Regions from separate parts of the Homo sapiens genome. Here regions 2 and 3 are each linked to region 1. The links come from fine-mapping of genetic effects on gene expression. A gene starts in region 1. Each other region holds a variant in brackets. All regions are shown on one strand. Distances are from middle to middle.

Evidence for each region.
Region 2: its variant is fine-mapped to the expression of TBL1X in whole blood (TOPMed, PIP above 0.99).
Region 3: its variant is fine-mapped to the expression of TBL1X in whole blood (TOPMed, PIP above 0.99).

Annotation. Positions count from the first base shown.
Region 1 is chrX:9,461,603-9,468,002 of GRCh38, reverse strand. It overlaps TBL1X (transducin beta like 1 X-linked), which reads right to left and starts at 2,945. Exons shown (of 18, transcript NM_005647.4): 1 at 2,556-2,945. RefSeq lists silencers at 1,970-2,119, 2,420-2,559, 2,680-3,259 and enhancers at 3,490-3,689, 3,517-4,345, 4,720-5,014.
Region 2 is chrX:9,714,974-9,721,373 of GRCh38, reverse strand. It overlaps TBL1X (transducin beta like 1 X-linked), which reads right to left. Exons shown (of 18, transcript NM_005647.4): 17 at 6,371-6,400; 18 at 1,634-5,154. The coding sequence ends at 5,128. Among named protein-coding and RNA genes, the nearest start is that of GPR143, 48 kb to the left of the region's middle. The variant A/G (reference allele first, on the strand shown) is at 3,513.
Region 3 is chrX:9,534,631-9,541,030 of GRCh38, reverse strand. The region is part of intron 2 of TBL1X (transducin beta like 1 X-linked); the gene reads right to left. Among named protein-coding and RNA genes, the nearest start is that of TBL1X, 73 kb to the right of the region's middle. The variant T/C (reference allele first, on the strand shown) is at 3,370.

The sequences.
Region 1 (6,400 bases):
GGCTGTGTGGGAGGGGGCCAGCTTGGGAGGCGCAGGCATCTGAAGTCAGGCTCCCGCTGGCCAGGCAGGCAGCAGCCCGGCGGACTCCTTAACGGCTGTCTTTCTCCCCTGGAGATCTGAAACGTCTCTCCTCAGCCTAGGCTCTTTGCCCTTTAGAAACATGTGGACTTCTTCGGCCCCTTCCCATATCCAGCTTTTCTTTTGGTTCTGGTGGGTTTCATGTTTGCCAGTCTGGCCAGCATGGTCCATGTGGTCGAGCCCCACAGAAAGTGAGGGCGGGAGTGGAGGGGGCAAGACCGGAGGTAAAAACTCGAGTCCAGTCTCCGGCTAACTAAAAATAGTTATGGGGGAAAAAAGTTTATCTTTCCAACTAAAAAAAAAAAAGTGTTTACAATATGCCTTTAGTGTTGCTTCCTGGGTGGAACTGATTTTTCAATGCATGTGGTAGTGAAAGATTAACAACTTCTCGGATGTAGCATATTAGGTTTTTTTGCTTTTCCTAAGGGAGGAAAAAAAGCAAATCCAAGGCATCAGGAAAGCAGTGGGAGGATGGTCCTGCCTCGCTGGGCAGAGAAGCTGTGCTGATCAGCTAAGCCAGGAGGCCCACAGGGCACTGCTGCGGGGCAGAGCACCGGAATCTGGACGCCCTGCAGAAAACTGGGAGGGGGCCGGACCCAGGTTCTAGCGGAGGTGTGCTCCTATCCAGCAGGAGTAGATCGGATAATCTGAATTCCTGACCCTCGGGACCTGCTGGAGATGGCCTCCCTCTGCAGGGACCATTTTCCCGCCTCTGTTCGTCACCTTAAAAGGTGAAAAAAAATCTTCTAACTAAGATGATGTTGTACAGAACCAGTGGTACTGATATAATTGATGGGAAAACTCCAGAAATTGAAACATTCACTTCTAAGTATGTCTACAATAAAGTTATTTTTGCAAACTGTTTCCTCTTTAAAACCACTGACAGAGAGAAGTTCTCTGAGGTAAAGGGGCAAAATGCCTGAGAGTTGGGGAGCGAGGGTGGCAGCACTACACCACAAATCTCCATATTTGCCCTACAGGTGTGTGTTCTACTAAGGGCTGGAATCGCCTTAAGGGCCGGTGATCCAGTGATGAACAACTTTTGTTGTTTGCATTAGTTACCCAGCTTGGTGGCTTTCCACAAAAATGTGCAGCACATTTGAGACAGGACTACCCTTTAAAATAAACGCGTCATACTCAACGTTCTTCTGTATTTTATTTTTCCTAATTACATCTTTTCTAGGAAGGACTTGTAAACTTTTCATAAAATCGTCAAGTGCCACTTCCAACACCAAAGCCACTGCCTGGAACCTTAGCAGGGAGGTTGCCTTCCTTCCCCCTCGCCTTCCAGGTTAAACCAGGGACTGGGCGATGTTTCAGGAGAGGAAAACATCCAAAAGGCAGGTCAAACCACACATGACAATGCAAAGCAGAAACAGTTGCAAATACAATAGAGGGTAGGTTTTTGTTTCTTTTTAGGTTTTGCTCCAGAACATCACTGACTCGAGAATAAACGTCAGTCCCTACCTTTGTGGAACGTCCAACGCAGCTGGCTGGGGGAACACGAGGCCTTGCAGGGAGCGAGCCCCGGCCCCGGTCTGACGGAACACAGGCGACGCACGTGAAGTCCAGGCCCTATCCCAGCGCAGGCGGGCCTCCAGCGACCCACAGTTGTCACATATCCGGCCAGCGCCGACTCCCGAAGGCGCACTCCCCATACTCCACTCCGAGCACCGGTCCCATCGTTAGGGAAGGTCCCCCTGGATAGCAAGGCCGGGGCCCAGGATCTGCGAGACCCACCCCACCCGCCCCGTCAGAGCCCAGGAGCAGCAACAGGTCTGCGCTCTCCCCGGGCGGCGCTCTGCAGACCCTCGACGGGCCAAGGGTGCCCCCAGCCCAGCCGTGCGCTCAGGCCGGGGAGATGGGCGGAGGACTGGGGCTCCCGACTTCCTTGACAGTTTCTGCGCGTCAGAAACTGAGCAGACACGGGGCCCGCGCCACCTCGCCCGCCGCTTGCCCCACTCCGCGAGGCTGCGCTTCCACCCGGGTCCGGGAGGGCCGGCCCGCGTCCCGGGTATGAATGGGGCTCTTCTCCCCAACAGCGGGGAAATCCCGCCACCGCCCTCCACCCCGGTCCCCGGAGCCCGCGGTGGCGCAGGTTTGCCCAGCAAGCCCCTGAATCGGCAGACAAAGGGGCACCGGAGGAAAAGCCGAGCGCTTCCCTAAACTTACCGGCCACTTCCCCCTCCCCAAAACAAAGGAGCCCCCCGCCGACCTCCGTCTCTCCCCGCAAGGCGCGCCGGCACTTCGGGGAGCGGCCACCTCGGGGTATTGTTCAGGCTCCTGGGAGCGCGCCGCACCCCAGTCCGAGCGCCGCGGGGACAGTTGGCGACCTGCACCTACAGGAGTTCCAGGGGCGGGTGGAGCGTTCGGGCGCCCCGAGCCGCCGGCCGGACCCTGGAGGGTCAGCGCGGGACCCGCCTCCCCGCAGAAGTTTGCGGACCCCGCGCCCGGCCCGCCGAGCCCTGCGCACTCACCTCGTCGCGAGCAGCGCAACTTGTGGCGGCGCCGCGCGCCCGGCCGCGCTCCGAACCTCCCTCCAGCCGGCAGCCTCCGAGTCCCGGCCGTGCGGCGGCCGAAGAGGGCCCGGCGCCCCGGAGCAGCCGCGCGCCGCCCCCGGGCCGCCCCCGCCCCGCCGCCGCCGAGTCCCGGAGAGAGCGCGGGCGCTGGAAAGTTTCGGTGGCGAATGGCGGCCTGAGGGCGCTGCGGCGGCGGCGGGGCGGGGGCGCTGGCGGCTCCTCGCTCCCAAGCGCGGAGTGGGGGCGCTGAGGCGGGCGCGGCGGCGGCGGCGGCGGCAGCGGGAGAGGGCGGGACAGCGGGAGGGACTGGCACGGACAGTGACCTCCACGGGGAGCTGCCGCGAGCGCGCGGACCCCAGCCAGGAGGACCGCCAGGGGTCCGCCCCCGCCGCCGGCCCCTCCCTCACGGCCGTGGGAGGGGACCCGGCGTACCACCCGGCCCCGCCCCTGCGCCCCGGGGGAGCCGCGTCCCGAACCAGCCCCTCCCCTACGAGGGTAGGGACTCCGGCCCTGCCCCTCCCCCGCGGCTCCTAGTGGGGACCCGCGTCCCAACCCAGCCCCTGTCCCACGGTCGGGGGACCAGCGTCCCTACCAAGCCCGCCCCGCTCCCCCACGCCTAGGGTGGGTGAGGGGAACCCGGGCCTCTCCCTAGTTGCTCTGGTCCCGGTCCCTTCCCCGTGGCCTCCGTGGGACTGAGAGGACCCCAGGGCTACCCCCATCACATCCCAAACCCAGCCTTTCCACGACTGCCTCGAGGGGACGGGAACCTCGGCCACCCCCTCAGTTTCTAGGGGGCAGGGGAACCTCGATCACTGCTAAAGTGTTACCCTCCCCCACCCCAAAAAGGAAGCCACCCGGCTGCCCCAACAGAACCCCCTGCCACCTGCCCGATGGTGAATCTCCCTCAAAATCGGCGTCTTAGAAGACACCCCAGTAGTCTTTACCCCAGCTCAAAAAGTGGGGGTTCCGGCGGAGCCTCGACCTTTGCAAAACACCTCCCAAGAAGAGCCAGAAATGCTTAGGGACAAACTCAGACACACAGGCATAGGCGCCAGGAACTCGGGTGTGGGGGCTGAGGAGGTTGGGGGGACCTGGGCACTCGGGCCTCATCACTCCCACCCCAACCCCCCAGGCATCAGCCCTCTGGCCCTTGCAAAGTGCTTTATGTTGCAATGGCTTACACGGCCTGGCCCCGGTGTACCTAAGTCCCCAGCGCTCCTTCCTCCCCTCCACGTAGGCTACTCCCAACCACTCGCAGCCTTAATTCAGTTAAACAGATCTCCACTCCCCCTCCCCAGCACCTCTGGGGTCAGCCTCGTTGAATATTTTTCAAATATTCTTGCCCCTTCCTTTACTATATAATGAGCTTCGTGCTAAGAGCCCGGTACACTCAGCAATCTAAACTATAACCTCACTTGCTCTTCCTCGAACTCTAGACCATTTGTTGTTCTGGTTGTAGGGGGAGGGGGACCTAAGGTGAGGTTTTTGTTTTTTTGTTTTTGTTTTTGTTTTTCTGAGGAGTCTCGCTCTGTCGCCCAAGCTGGAGTGCAGTGGCGCGCTGTCGGCTCATTGCAACCTCCACCACCCTGGTTCAAGCAATTCCCCTGCCTCAGCCTCCCGAGTAGCTGGGATTACAGGCGCATGCCACCACGCCCAGCTAATTTTTTTTGTATTTTTAGTAGAGACGGGGTTTCACCATATTGGCCAGACTGGTCTGAACTCCTGACCTCAGGCAATCCGCCGGCCTCGGCCTCCCAAAGTGCTGGGATTACAGGCGTGAGCCACCGTGCCCGGCCGGAGGTGAGTTTTTAAGAGGCCGGTCCTCCACCAAAACGGCGGACCTCAAAATTACCCTGCAAAATATTGCTGTAAAACGTCAATGATGCAAAACGACTGTTGCTACACCATCATTAGAGGACATCAATAAAAAAATACACACTTACACAGTCTCCATAATTGTGAATCAGCAGAATAGATTGTGTCTTATTATGTATCAGTTGCCATTCAAGGCCCCCCAGAAGGACATGGTGGGGCCTTCCCTTGAGCCTGCCCTTCGTTGCTCCTGGGCTCCCTGGGCTTGTGCAGACTGATGCTGAGGTATTACATGCAATAGAAAAACGAAGGGTGCAATAGAAAACCCGAACGAGCTCATGATGCAACCCTGCCCTGGCTACACGTGCTTCCCTTCCCCCACCGCCTGCTGGTGGGAGTGCTGCGTTTTTTCCGCCTGTAGGGTCACATTGTGGTTGATTGATTCTCCTTTCGCCTTGCTCAGTCATTCAGATTTGGAAAGTAAATAACAAGTTGACATCATTACAGCTCTGGGCTTTACGCGGACGCAGCCCTCGGCTACCGCACACTCTGGAGTAGCTGCGCAGCCAACCAGCCTCCTAGCTTGCCAGACCTGCTTGTGGTTAGCAGTTGGAAATTCCAAGCTAAACTTGGTTAAAAGGCCTCTTTGTGTGTTTTGATTACTTGGCAGATGCCAGTCTTTTAAAGTATGGGAAAGTGGTGGAAATCCTCACTTTCAAACTGGAGCCCAGTGTGGCCAGGATTTACAGCTGAGCTCCTGTAATTGACAATGCAAAAGAGCTGAGAATTCATCTTGACTGTTTGACAATATCCCCATAATCCCACCACCCTTATTACCCGTAAAGAGTCAATATCTTTTATCATAGACTCACAGGACCCCAAAGGACACTGTAAGACCTAAGACAGGAAGAGAGACCGCCTACATTTATCGTGAAATCACCAAAATTCCTCTTTTTGAAATACTAGATGGACTGTAGGTGGGTGATAATTAGACTGTGTTATTTAATCTGTTTCAACGATTTTTCAAATGTGCAGTCCTATAAGGTGGGAGAAAACAAGGAAATAAAGTAGAGCGGCAAGGAGGTAGTGTATTCTGAGAAAGCTAAAGGATAACAGGGCGAGGGGTCCACAGTGATTTACACAGAAACCCACTGCACTAGCCATGTGCGTGTGTGCGCGTGTGTGTGTTGCAAACACTTATTTTCAGTTATTGACTGGAGGGAGGGGAAAACAAGAATCTGCTTGCAACAAATACTACCAGCATTCCCCATAAACAGTACCCAAAATTTTAATTAAAAGGCAGTAGGAATTCACACAAATATACTTAACTAATCTTTCACAAAGGAGCAAAGGCAATTCATCCTTTTTAACAAGTGGTGCTGGAACAACTGGACACCCATATGCCAAAAAAAAAAAAAAAACTAGGCTTTTTATCTTTCACAAAAATTAACTTAAAATAGAACATACCCCCAAATGTAAAAGGCAAAACTATAAAAACTCTTAGAAGATAACATAGAAAATCTAGATGACCTTGGGTTTGGTAATGACTGTGTAGCTAGAACACCAAAAGCATGATGCGTAAAAGAAAAAAAAATTGGTAAGTTGGGCATCACTAAAATTTGAAAAGTCTACAAAAGACACTGTTAAGAGAATGAGAAGACAAGTCACAGAATGGGAGGAAATATTTGCAAATTCCATATCTGATTAAGGATTGTATTTGAAATATGCAGGCCAGCATAGTGGCTCACACCTGTTGAGGCTGCTGTGAGCTGTGATCTCACCACTGCACTCCAGCCTGGGCGACAGAGAAGACCTTGTCTCTAATTTTTTTTTAGAGTGTGTGTGTGTGTGTGTGTGTGTGTGTGTGTGTGCGTGTACAGATATATGTACATATGTGTATATGTATGTGTATATATATATACATATTTCTTAAAACTCCACGATGAGAAAATAAACAACTGAATCAAAGAGCAAACGATCAGAAAAAAACT
Region 2 (6,400 bases), 250 kb before region 1:
CCTACAGACAACATCCTCCTCCCCGAACCCACTGTTCCTTCTCTATTCTCCAGACTGAACTTCTTGCCTTACTTACCGTGCTGTGGATGAGACACTTCAGAGACAAAGGACCCAGACTGGACAAAAACTGGCTCAGACATCTTTTTTAAGGGCATAAATCTGTTCTCCTCCCCCTCCTACCCTTTTCCTGTACTTCACAAGGGACTTCCAGGTTTCCACCAGACAGCCATCATCAACAGCCAGCTTCCAGACAGAACTTGTGCAGAGAGCTTTCTGTGAACATGAATAATGTTCTCTGATATCCTTTTGAAACAGCACCAAGATGGGGCAATTTAAAAAAAAAAGCGAGATCTCTGTTTAGTGAGTTGAAACTTAGATTCCTAAAATAAAGGAGGAGCTTCAATGGACTGGGGGAACCTTTTGAGACGCACTGCGGGGAAGGGTTCCATCCATCTGAAGATTTAAGTTATATAAATTCTGGCAATCGTGGTCCCAATCAACTTTCCTCTATATCACAAAGAAACCCACTTAGAGCCAGTCATACGTCAACGGCATTCTTAGGGGAGCCACCAAAGCCACCCGCCACACGTGCATTTATCCTGGGAACTGCCGCATGCTTTGTTGTCTGCCCACTGTTTCCATGCGGTTCTTCCCGAGCTGTCCCAGGGTTCTGCAGTACCCCTCAGGGTGCCCCAAATCCACCACCTGGCAACACACTTGCTCCACTTGGCAGGGGCTAAAGAGAAAAATGAAAATGAGAAGGTGAACCCCAGAAAACACCGGAAGATAGGGTAAGTTTTTCTCTAAAGGTGACAACTGCTCATATAATATTCAGTCTTCAGTTGCCAATTCAAGACTTGAATTTGGGATTTGGTTCCTGCAAAAGTCCGGATCATCAGTGAAGGTCACAGGCACACTTGGATCTTTCCCAGGGAATCACCACAGAAGCCTCTACGCCCCTAGCCATCTGCTTTGTCCTAGTGCGGAACAAGCAGGATTAGAGGGAAATGACACCGTGACTTTGTCTGGGACTCATCTGCAAAGTGAAACCTTAGACTAAGAGTAAGGCCATCTCTTCGCCTCTCGGAATCTACAGCCTCCTTCATAGAATGCCGATAGCAATATCCATTCACTAATTACATTATTTAACAGCCACCTAATTAATTAAAGCAGCATAAATGAAGACATGCACAGAGCAAATGTCAATAAATGTTTGCCACATGTTGGTTTGCACCATGCAGACGTCCATGTCCAAAGTCACCCCATCCTGTTAGGTTCTGCAAATTACTCGGGGGTAATTCGGGAACTCAAACTCCCGGTCAACCAATCCGCTGATGAGAGAACATTCATTTGCTTTGTCTTTCTCCAACAGCCAGCCTGAAATAAAGAATGAAAAGGAAACACACTAAAAAACATGATCCCTGGACAGAACCACCTTTCAGAACAGCAGGCGGCTGCTGTGACTGCCATGTCACTGCGTTCTGCTCCCAGCTCCCTATCTCACACAGCAATCCTAAACAGAGGCTCAAGGTACTTCCTTCTGGAGAAAATACAGAGCTCTGTCTTCAGTCATTCAGTCAACGTGGGCCCAAGAGTTCCAGAGCGAGAGGAAGAAAGCACACCCACCAAGTTCTCTAATATCAAAATAGAGCAATTTATTCAAGACACTGAATATGATCTGTTGATTCTCTCTTGAAACAAATGAGCTACAACACACAAGGTGATTTTTTTTTTTTTCTTCAAAGAGCGTGAGGGTGAGTACAGGTGGCGGGGGGAATGAAAAGGCGGTCGCTGTCATCTGAACAGAATCGGAAAAATGCCAATAGAGAACATGTCTGGCTGTACGTCTGACACAGACAATAAAAACTGCACAAGCCAGAATGCAAAACTTCAGTGAGTGGCGGAAGGAACATTTCTGCATTTGACAAGAAACATAAGCTTTTTTTTTTTCTTTTTTTAAATGGCGGAACAAAAGGTTAAAAAACAGAAAAGCAACAAGAACAAAGCAGACCCTTACATTTGACAAAGTGCACTTCACTTGGCTCCATGATCTATTTCTTAGAAAGACTAAACAAAAGTCAAGTCCTACGGTGTCGCGAGGGGTCAGAGGGTTTCACCCTGTAACGTCCGGCCCTTTTGGTCCCCCTTGGGGCAGCATCCCTTTCCCAGGTGTGTGCTGGACCTGACTCTCGGTCACTGTGAACCCGACCAAACACTCTAGGAAGGTCTGTCATGCTATGTCTGCTTTCAAGGTCACGTTTGGTCACTAAGACTTAGGCATTCCTCACCATGTTTTAAGAGCTGTAAACAACGTTGAACAATAACATTCCACAGGCCATTTCTTGATTACAGGGATGACTCTACCAACATGCCAGCAGCAGAGAGGGTGAGTAGTGGTGTGCAAATGCTGGAGGCTCTGAAAACGGCTGTCCATGGTGTTGTCCCGCTGAGAACGGGGATGGATATGAAGGGTGCTAGCTGCATCTCGCGCTTGGTTTTGCTTGCGGCCGCAGGCTGGGGAAGCCAGGGATGGAGCCTGGGGTCCGAGGCCTCCCAGCCCAGGTTTCTACCTAACAATTCCGACATGGTTCACATTCATCAAGACTAAAGCCATCCCTCGGGAGAGACCCTGGCTACCGACATTCATGTGAAGATTGTCTAGTGAATTGCTTGCGACACATCCCACCATCGCCATCCCACAGTTGTTACTGGTTTGTCAAGCATAAGCCATGCCCTAACGACAGGCTGGCCTTTGACAGCAGATGTTCTACAGAGATGAGTGCATTTTTATTTGGGTGGGGTAGAGATGGTGTCTTTTGGACCCCAACAAACTGTACTCTAAACTTCACAGAGTCCTTGGGACGGGAAATCATCACCTCATCCAGGGACACTGGCTATCTTCAAAGATGGGTGCGGCGACTCCACATCACTGTGACCTTCTTTGCTAAGTGTTTCGGAAACAGAACACGAATAAAATACTCATCTCAGAACCAGAGCACTTTTTGGTCTTCTGGGACATGAATAATTCACATACCCAAGTGGAGGCCAATCAATGATCTGAGAATGATCAACGCACCCTGGCTTTTGCAGGTGGTCCTGGCACGTTCCAAGTTCCACAGAAGCCCTGACCCTTCCCCGATGGCTGGGTTTTGGCTCCGCAGATGAATGCCACCTTCACAATAACACCGTCTCACTGCTGGAACACACACCAGATTGCACCCTACCCACTGCTGGTGACCCAGCAGCCCCCACGGGCTGGGCCATCTTCCTCAGCCCTTCTGCCCACAGGAAAACCAATGGGAGAAGAGGCCCTTGTCCTTTGGCCTTTTCCCCCTTGCTAATGACAAAAATAAGTCCGTGTCGGGTTATGACAGCAAGCAGATGGAGGTCACCAGATTCACTGAAATGAAGCTCTTCTAGGAACACAAAGCCTTGTTTAATTTTTTAAAAACAGCAAAAAGATTATTTAAAAAAGATCTTTCTCCTAGTCTTCTGTGAGACAAAGAAATTAT[A/G]AAGATGGCAGAAATTATTAGCGACGTTCTACCTCTATAATTCACGTTCAGGACTGAAAATCTTCCTTCTGCATTCATTTCTGTCAGCGTTAGACTAAGTGACATGCGGGCGCCTCTATGTCAGCTCTGCAAGGACTCGCCAAGCCTGCTCTTGGAGAAATGACCATCGGTCGTTATACGGTTGTGGGAAAGATGTAGCCAACACGCCTAATCCAGCCGAGCAGTCGGTTTCGACGGCTTCTGCAGTACCTTATGGTTCTGCCAATGCTCCCTTGAGGCCAGAGGGCGCGCGGCTCTTCGCTGCTTTCCTGCTGGCTGCCAAGGTGCATACACACCAAAAGATGCGAGGTTCTTCTTCCAGCCGGCATGGCGGGGACCTCCCTCACTGGCTGCAGAGCAATCTCGCTGCTGACCCCGAAGACTGACCCTTGTCCAGCCAGAGTTTTCCTGACCACCTTTCCTGAGGCTGAGGGGAAAGCCAGGGGCTCCCTCAGGCCCTGCCTGTGGCTTCTTCGGTTCTTTTTAAAACATGAATCACACAAAGCTCTCTATGTCTGATGGCCATTTTAAGATTTTAAAATTGTTTTAACATAAAAATATTATTTTTTTTTCCAAAAATACTCCAGGCTCTTTCTCTTATAAGTCATTTTTTTTTCTCCTGTAAAAAGCCCCCCTGCCCTGCCTTCTTACATAAAGCACTTACTACGCGCCAAAGTGCCCTTGAGACCTAAGATCTGAAGCAACTATGAGAAAGGTACAGAGGGAGAGAGAGAGAGAAAGAGAGCACGCCAGTGAGAAAGCGAGCGCGAGCGCGAGCGCAAGGGGAGGAGAGGGTGGGAGAGGGCGGAAGGGGGAAAGCTGTCCGTGGGAGATTGTGTCTTCATGTCCACGGGGCTGCATCTCTTGATGGTGCACTGAAAAAGCAGAGCTCACCAGACAGAGTGGAAAGGCAGGGGGAGGGGCAGGGAGCAACAGAAGGAAGAGACAACAAGCCCAAGACAGCTTCCATCTCAGACGGAAGGCCCCCAGAAGATAGAATTCCAGCCGACTGAAAAACCACCCAATGAACAAAGAAGATTCTAGAAAATAGAAAGTGTTGGGATTACAAAGTTGCGCGTTTCATCGGTACAAACTGGTCTTTGAACCTCCTTTGTGAGAGCAATTGTAGTGTCCAAATTGTTAGGGAAAACAAAAAAAAAAAATCCCAAGGAGGAGGGTTTTTCCCCCTTCCCTGTTTGGTTTATCACAGCATTTTGCTTTTTTTTTGGCACAGCTTTTTACGTTTCTTTCCATTCAGCCATCACAGAGCCTGTTCCGGGTGGAAACCAATCCACACGCCTCGAGCTGGTGACTTCCTCCTTCCCAGGCTGAATGTCCTCAGTGGAAACCATTCTATCCCCGTTTGATATGATTTGCTTCTGTTTTTGCTTGCCTTTTAAAAACTTCTTGATGAAGATTACGAAAACATATAGACTCCTGCGGCCAGAGACGAGTTGGTTTCAGAGTACACTCTAACGCAAGTCAAGTTCCTACAGTTTTGGAGAATAGAGCTGCAACCCTACACATTCACGGCTGGTCATTAGAATTCTTTTCTTTTTTCGATAATATTTTGTGGTTACTTCCGCAGATCCAAAACACACACCTGGAAGGAAAGATAAAGCACCTGTCATCTTGAGAGACAATACAAAGATGCCTTTAGAGTGAGAAGTCGGCAAGCTACGGCCCCCACGCCCAATCTAGCCCTCCACCGATGTTTGTCAGTAAAGTTTATTGGAACATCGTCATGAAGGGTCAGAGAAGCTCTCATAACAGACTGGCATCTGGACATCGGACCGAGCAAACTGAAGCAAACAGCACAGAGCAGAAAGGCCAGGTTAAGGGTAATGATAGGAATTAACAGAGTGGCAGAGGTCCCAGAAGGGACACCTGCAATCGTGGGGCAGATGACAATACGAGCCCAAGTACACAGCCTCTGACAACATTTGGGGACTACTCTGACCCTTGGCCGTTCAGCCAGAACGGCCGCTTGCCCCAGAGGTCAGGGCAACCTCAAGTCCAGGGGAAAATAAGAAATCCAGATGCCCCATGGGAAGAGAAGAGGGCCCAGGAGACCTGCAGGATGGCCACCAGAGGCCCGGGCTTCTCAGCCACAGCATGGGTGACAATTGTGGCCACCCTGTGCACAGTAGGAGGTTTAGCAGCATCCTCATCTAAGCACAGTCACGCGTCACATAATGACGTTTCCAGCAACAACGCACCGCACAGACCGCAGTGGTCCTGTAAGATTATAACCATATATCTGCTGAACCTTTTCTATGTTTAGATAGATCCGGACGCACAAATGCTTACCATTGTGTTCTGGTTGCCTACAGGAATCAGTATGGTCACCCGCTGTCCAGGTTTGTAGCCTGGGAGCAATAGGCTGTACCACACAGCCTCGGTGTGGGACAGGTATTATCATCTAGGTTTGTGTCAGTCACTCTATGATGTTCAGACAAAGATAAAAGTGCCTAATGACACATTTCCCAAAACGTTCCCGTCATTAAGCGACACATGACTGTAGTGACAACCTAAAATGGCTCCAGATATTGTCTAATGTCCTTAGAGGTGCAGAATCACCCTGGTTGAGAACCACCAATTTGACTGAGAAAATGTTGACTAGAAGGACACTCTGGAAGGGACAAGGAGAAGGCCATTCCCAGATGTGGTACCAACTCCGATGGGATCCAGCCCAGAAGCTTCCTTTGGCACTGGGCTAGGCCCTTCAGGACACGAATGCTGCACACGCCCTGGAAGCTCACTTAGGCATCAGCTGCCCCCAACACCCCACTCCCCAGCAAACCAGAGGTGTTGCTTACAGAGCCGTCGGACGCGCTGGCACCCACTTT
Region 3 (6,400 bases), 73 kb before region 1:
TCTTTGCTTACTACTTAATGCCCCACAACAAAAAGTGAATTCTGACTTTTGTTTTCAATTGGAAAGGAGAGGTTGAGTTGGAAACTGGGGTAATATGAATGCGGCATCCTTCTCTGATTATTGACAGAAAAAGCATTTTACAACCTTTAAAAGACAATAAAAGAGGGATTTCACAAACAATATAGGATGCTGGACCAACTAAGAGTAATATTTCCTGGGGCTTGTCACTAAATTGGAGATTTTTCCAAAGAACATCCAAAGCACTAGTGAATACATAAGCATCTTATTTAAAACTATAGGAAAATATAATACTGACCTAACCACTGAATTTAGACTTGTTTGTGATGAAAGACTTAGTCTTTTGTTAATTGTTAATATAAAACATTTTGCTCTTCCTAAGTCAGCACATATTTGAAGGAAAGACCAACAATTGCCTTTGGCATCACTTCCCTCGGTTGTCCCAGCTCCGCGCTAACAAGCACAGTTTTTAATTTAACTTCCCTTGTGAAATGGCTCACTTTTTTAAAGAGAAAAACAGGGCAAGAAGACTTCATCTCCAATGGAAGAGCCACTGCCAGAGGTGGGGCCTTTCTGGTTCACAATTTCTCTCTGGCTTGCCTTCCCCCTCGCCAGCTGACTTGGTTGGCCTCAAACAAATTTCAACACAGTTGAGGGGCATCAGAACACTTGTATGGCTCTGGCCACAACCGCTGCAATAACCAGGCTCCTGTGAGTCAGTTGCCACCTAGTGTATAACCTTTGTTAACTTGCACCCCATGCCTGCATCTTTGTCTTGGTAACCCAACTAGTACACTAAACCCTCTAGAACCCAAATCCTGGCTAACGCATAAGTGTTCAGTGCTACCTCTGACAATGGGCTAGTGATGACAGTGATGATGATTAGTTACTATTATCTCTGTCCCCAGTGTGGATAGGGCCCATGACTTCATTTTAAACTGTAACACTTCTTGTGCCAAATTCTTCCTGCATTATAACTACCACCTACTGTGTACACACAGGTTATTCTGCACCTGTTCTGGATATTCTGTTCTGCCTGCAACTATGAATGTCTTTTAAGACCCCATCTAGAGCCAAATAAGTCCTGTGGCACATTTCTGAGTCACTGGGTTAGTCTAGTTCCAAGTCTCAGCTGTACTGCCTAGTAGGGTTTGCATTTGGTGGGGCATGCCCTGACCACGACTTGATAATGAAGGGGGTGGAGTGGGAAGATGTAATAACCCAGTCTTCACCTGTTTGACTGAGCTATGTGCCAGGCTCTGTGCCAGGTGCAGGACTACAAAGACGAGGATGACGTGGGCCTGCCCATGACACAAAGAACAGTTTGGTGAGGAGACAGATATCTCAAAAGACTATCACAAAACAACCCAGAAGTGCTATAAACAATATTCTCAGCATTTTACAGAACACTGATGAGTAGCCCAAAGCCATCTGGGTGGGAAACCGGGCTTCCTGAGGAAAGTGATATCGGAGCCACGTCAAAGAATAAGTAGAACTTAGCCATGAGGAGAAGAGGGGAGTAGGAATCATCACAGAATACCCCAAATTTATAACAGAAACTAACCTTTACCAAGTGCCCCTGCACCAAGATTTTGCCTATGTAATCTCATTGACCTCACACAACCACCTTATAGAGTACATACGGTCAACTTCATTCTTCTGATTAGGAAAAGCAAGCAGGAAAAGGTTAACTTGACAAGGTGCCACAGCTATGCAAAATGGTGGTGACACAATGCACCCTAATCTGAGTAACTCTCAGACCAACACAATTTCTATTGTACCTACGACCTTCATAGAACCACACTCTTGTGATAAAGGTCACAAGAAGCTCTTTGTGCATTTAATCAAGTATGCAATGTGCCTAGATGTTCCTTGTTGTCCTCAAACACAATGTATCCTTTTCCTCATTTTGGCCACCAAAAGATTCACAAAGGGAACAGAAATCAAGATTGTCATCCCCTCCTCTCAGTATCTCCCCATCAGAGTAACCCTAACTCACCGCTTCTCAACCGTCCTGTTATCTGAGTGCCACGTTCCCAGCAGCTTTTGCTGGCAAGGACAGCTAAGCCCTCCATCTGCTGCACTGCCCTGAGGCCTCATCTTGTGCTGAGAGGAGGGGCCCCAGCGGGCTTCTCCCCAGCAGGTGCACACGCACTCTGGCACCCTGGCACTGGGCCATGCAACCTTTCCCCAGCTGCCTTTCCCTACCAAAGGCGAAGCATGCAGACTTCAGGCTCATCAGAGAACGGAAACACCTTCTGGGGCTCTGGACACAAGGCACCCTCAAACAAACATCACCCAGGAAACTGATACAGAAAACAGAGCTGGAACCTCCCCCTCACCCTTCGGTACAAGAAAAGCATTGAGCAAGAGATGGGATAGCAGTTTTACAAGCGAGGAAGTATGAGGCTAATCTGTTCCCAAACAAAGCACCAAAGAGAAGATATCTGAAGGACGTACAGTCTAAAGTTTCAGCAGAGGATGGGAGACTGGGCACGTCCTAATATTTCGACAGATGTGTCTTAGTTTAAGGATAGCGCACATAAAAACTTTCCTTTTACCAAATTTATCTTTGGTAAACTAATTTCCCAGTCGGTGCCCTTGGAGAAATCTGTGTTAACTATTTGATAGTTCCCAATAAGAAAGGATACCTGGGCAAACATATGGTCCATGATATCCAAAGGAAATCTGAACCGCTTTTCTGCTATTGAGCAACATAAACCAGGCTGAAATTACTAAAATGGGGAGCAGCATGGTTACTACTAAGACCCGGGCTTTTGAAGACAGTGGAAAAAACCCAGACATTAAACCTAATCTCCAGTCCCATAATTGCTATTTTAACATTAACGGAACCTCCAGACATCAAGCACAGTGCAAACGTCCCAAGCAGTGAGCATTTCACGATTTCAACGCCAATGACCTGATCTCAGATGCACATTGGTGCAGTTGAGTCTGGTCACAGTCATAGAGCATCATGTTACTTCCAAAGCTTTCAACTCTGAAATTCTCATTTTGGGCCTCACTTCCCGCCACACCATTCCCCCTGCCTCGAGTGGCCTCACAACCCAGATCTGGCTCTCACCAAGGCCCCCAGCCGACAACTCGCTGCAGGTCACCCCTGTCTTCCCACCCAAACTAGGTCCTCAGGGCTATCAGGCCTAGGGTTGTCCTGTCTAATACAGCAGCCACTAGCCACACATGACTATGTAAACTTAAATCAATGAGAAGTAAACATATGCCAATGCTCATAGCAGCATTATCCACAACAGCCAAAAGGTGAAAGCCACCCATGTGTCCTCTGACAGATGAGTGGATAAACAGAGTGTAGTCCATCCATACACTGGAATATTA[T/C]ACAGCCTTAAAAAGGAAGGAAATTCTGACGCATGCTATGACATGGATGAAACTTGTGCTAAGCCAGACGCAAAAGGACAAATACCATATGATCCCACATATAAAAGGTCCCTAGAGTGTCAAAATCATAGAGAGAGAAAGTAGAACGTTGGTTGCTGGGGCTGTGGGGAGGGAAGAATAGGGAGTTTGTGTTTAATGGGGCAGTTTTCTGTTTGGTATGATGAAAAAGTTCTGCAGATGGATCGTGGTGAGGATTGCACAATGTAATGAATATTTAATGCTGTTGAACAGTGTACTTAGAAATGGTTATGATGGTAAATTCTGTTTTATGTATTTTACCACAATAAAAAAAATTGGGGGGCGGGGGGCAGTAGAGAGAGGAAACCTATCTGTAAGAGCACATTTTTCAATATGCCCAAACAAGAATATCAGGACCTTTTAATTGCTAATGCACGTAGATCACTCAAGACCACAGATGGCTCAAAGGTAAAAACCAAGATCCCTTTGGATCCCTCCCTGCCCGATGCATTGTGCTTTGCTCACAGTAAAAGCACTCAGTGATACTGGCTACATGGCAACAAGTACCAAATGATTACATGAGAGGTCTTTGGTAACTCTGAAAGGAAATTAGTGGATTGACCTTACAGTAATTGCTTCAAGACTTAAAAAGAAGGATTGGTAACTTAACGGCCTGGAAATCTTTCTTGGCGCATTCAAAACAAGAGAAAGCCTTTTGTAAACGCTTTGCACCTGTCTCACCACTGAAAGAGGGATTAAAGCCACTGCCTTGGTGCGAGAGGAGAAAATGTCTCTATGATAAAAGTCAAATTAGCAATATTTGACCTCCGGGTAATTTCACTCTGCAGCCCAGCTCCCCTTCTGCTGAGGTTAAAGGCACAACAGTGGCCAGGAGACAGCCCAATTTAAGAGTAACATGCGTCTAGTCTTATCAGAATTCACTGTTTTGATTTTATAGCAAAGTCAATGAGGCCCTTGGATTCTGTGGAAATTACCTCATAATTATTACCTGTGCAAGACAAATGTAACTTATTTAACTTTACAGGGCATTGCCAGTAAGACATGAATACTACATGATAAAAGTGCTCAATTTTGGCCAGGCACAATGGCTCACTCCTGTAATCCCAGCACTTTCGGAGGCCAAGGCAGGCAGATCACAAGGTCAAGAGATCGAGACCATGCTGGCCCACATGGTGAAACCTCATCTCTACTAAAAAATACAAAAATTAGCTGGGCATCGTGGTGCATGCCTGTAGTCCCAGCTACTCCGGAGGCTGACGCAGAAGAATCGCTTGAACCCGGGAGGTGGAGGTTGCAGTGAGCCGAGATCACGCCACTGCATTCCAGCCTGGTGACAGAGCAAGACTCCATCTAAAAAAAAAAAAAAATGCTCAATTCTGATGCTGGGGCAAACAAGAATTATCCAAGACACTTAAAATTGGACAGCTTTTTGTAATGGCCCAATAATAACGACTGTAATGCAGCAGCTTGTAAGGTACTTTAAAAAACAGAAAGGATATGTACTGAGGTTATCACAGGACAGAAGACTGCCTATGCCTGCTCACTTCAAATGGCCAGAGTTCATTTGAAACACAGCACAACCGTGTGCTTCTAGTGTTAAAATTCATGTGCCGCAGCCCACATTAGTGGATTCAGGCTGATCGATTTCAAACCATTCTGATGGCAAAGGGTGAATCATTTGAAAATGTCTTGGGAATATGATACAGAACCAAAAATGCTCATTCCCTACCTCTAGTTTCACCAATCCTCATACCAGCACTATCTATTGAAGGATTTGTTAAATGTCACTCTGTTCCTCGTATGCACACTAATTCCATTTTAAAAACTCACTCTATACACTCTTTTCAGAGTAATCAAGTAGAGAGGTAGTCCTACAGACTCAACTTTAAAGACTAGGATGTTTATACCCAGACAAGTAAAATATAAAGGGCACTGTCCTTTAACATTAATTTTGACAAGACATCAGAGCCAGATTTGATCATTTGGATATAATTAAAGAGTGCAAGGTTATTTTCACAAAACCAGAAAGACTTCTCTGATAGAATTCATCATCGCATCTTTAGAAGTTTGTGCTGACTCTCACATCAGGGGGGCTGCGTGTTTACAAACACACCCGAAGACTTTCACGATCAGGTATGCAGGGGAGACCTCAGGCCAGTGTGCCCAGGAGGTAGAATTCAGACACATTTCCAGTTAAAACTCTGGAGGCAAAAAAGTTTATTCCTCTGCACACTCGCAAGCCTGGCTGCAAGCCACACACACTCTTCACCTCCATTTCCTTCCCTCTATAAACAGAACCACATCTGTGCACGATGATTTCGTTTCCTTACAGGGGACTGGAAGCTTCCTCTCTGTCTCTCAAATAATGACAAAAATAACATTACTCAGGCATGCACAGCAGGCAAAGCCTTCTTGACAATTAGGATTTCAGAGCTTCTTTTTAGGGGAAAAGGGAGTAAGAATTCAAGTGGGATGGCTTCTGGAAGCCTGGGTCTGCACAGATCCCAAGCTGTGAAAAGACAGAAGCCCATGTGTCTGGCCTCTTTAAAAAAAAAGAGTAATATAAAAAGAATAATAAAAGTACTTACTGTTGACCGGATGCTCACCAAGCTCTGTTCTAAGCACTTTAACATGAACCAGCTTTTAAAATAATTCCACTTACACAAGCTACCTCAAGTTGTGAAATTCAAAGAAGCAGGGAGTGGAATAGTGGTTGCCAGGAGCTGGAGGGAGGAGAAACAGGGAGGAGTTGTTCAGAGGGTACATTGTTTCCATCCCGCAAATGAAAAGAGTCCTGGAGATGCTGGACAACTGCAGCTGACAATGCCTACACTCAGAGAGGGGGGAAGAGGGGAGATCTCATGTGGGACTTTTTTTAACCAGAATTTGTAAAATGCTGTAACAATATCCTATTAAGGGAGGTACCAACATCCGTCCCCAGTAAACACTGGCAGCCAAGAATCAAACCAAGGGACTGACAGATAACCCCAAT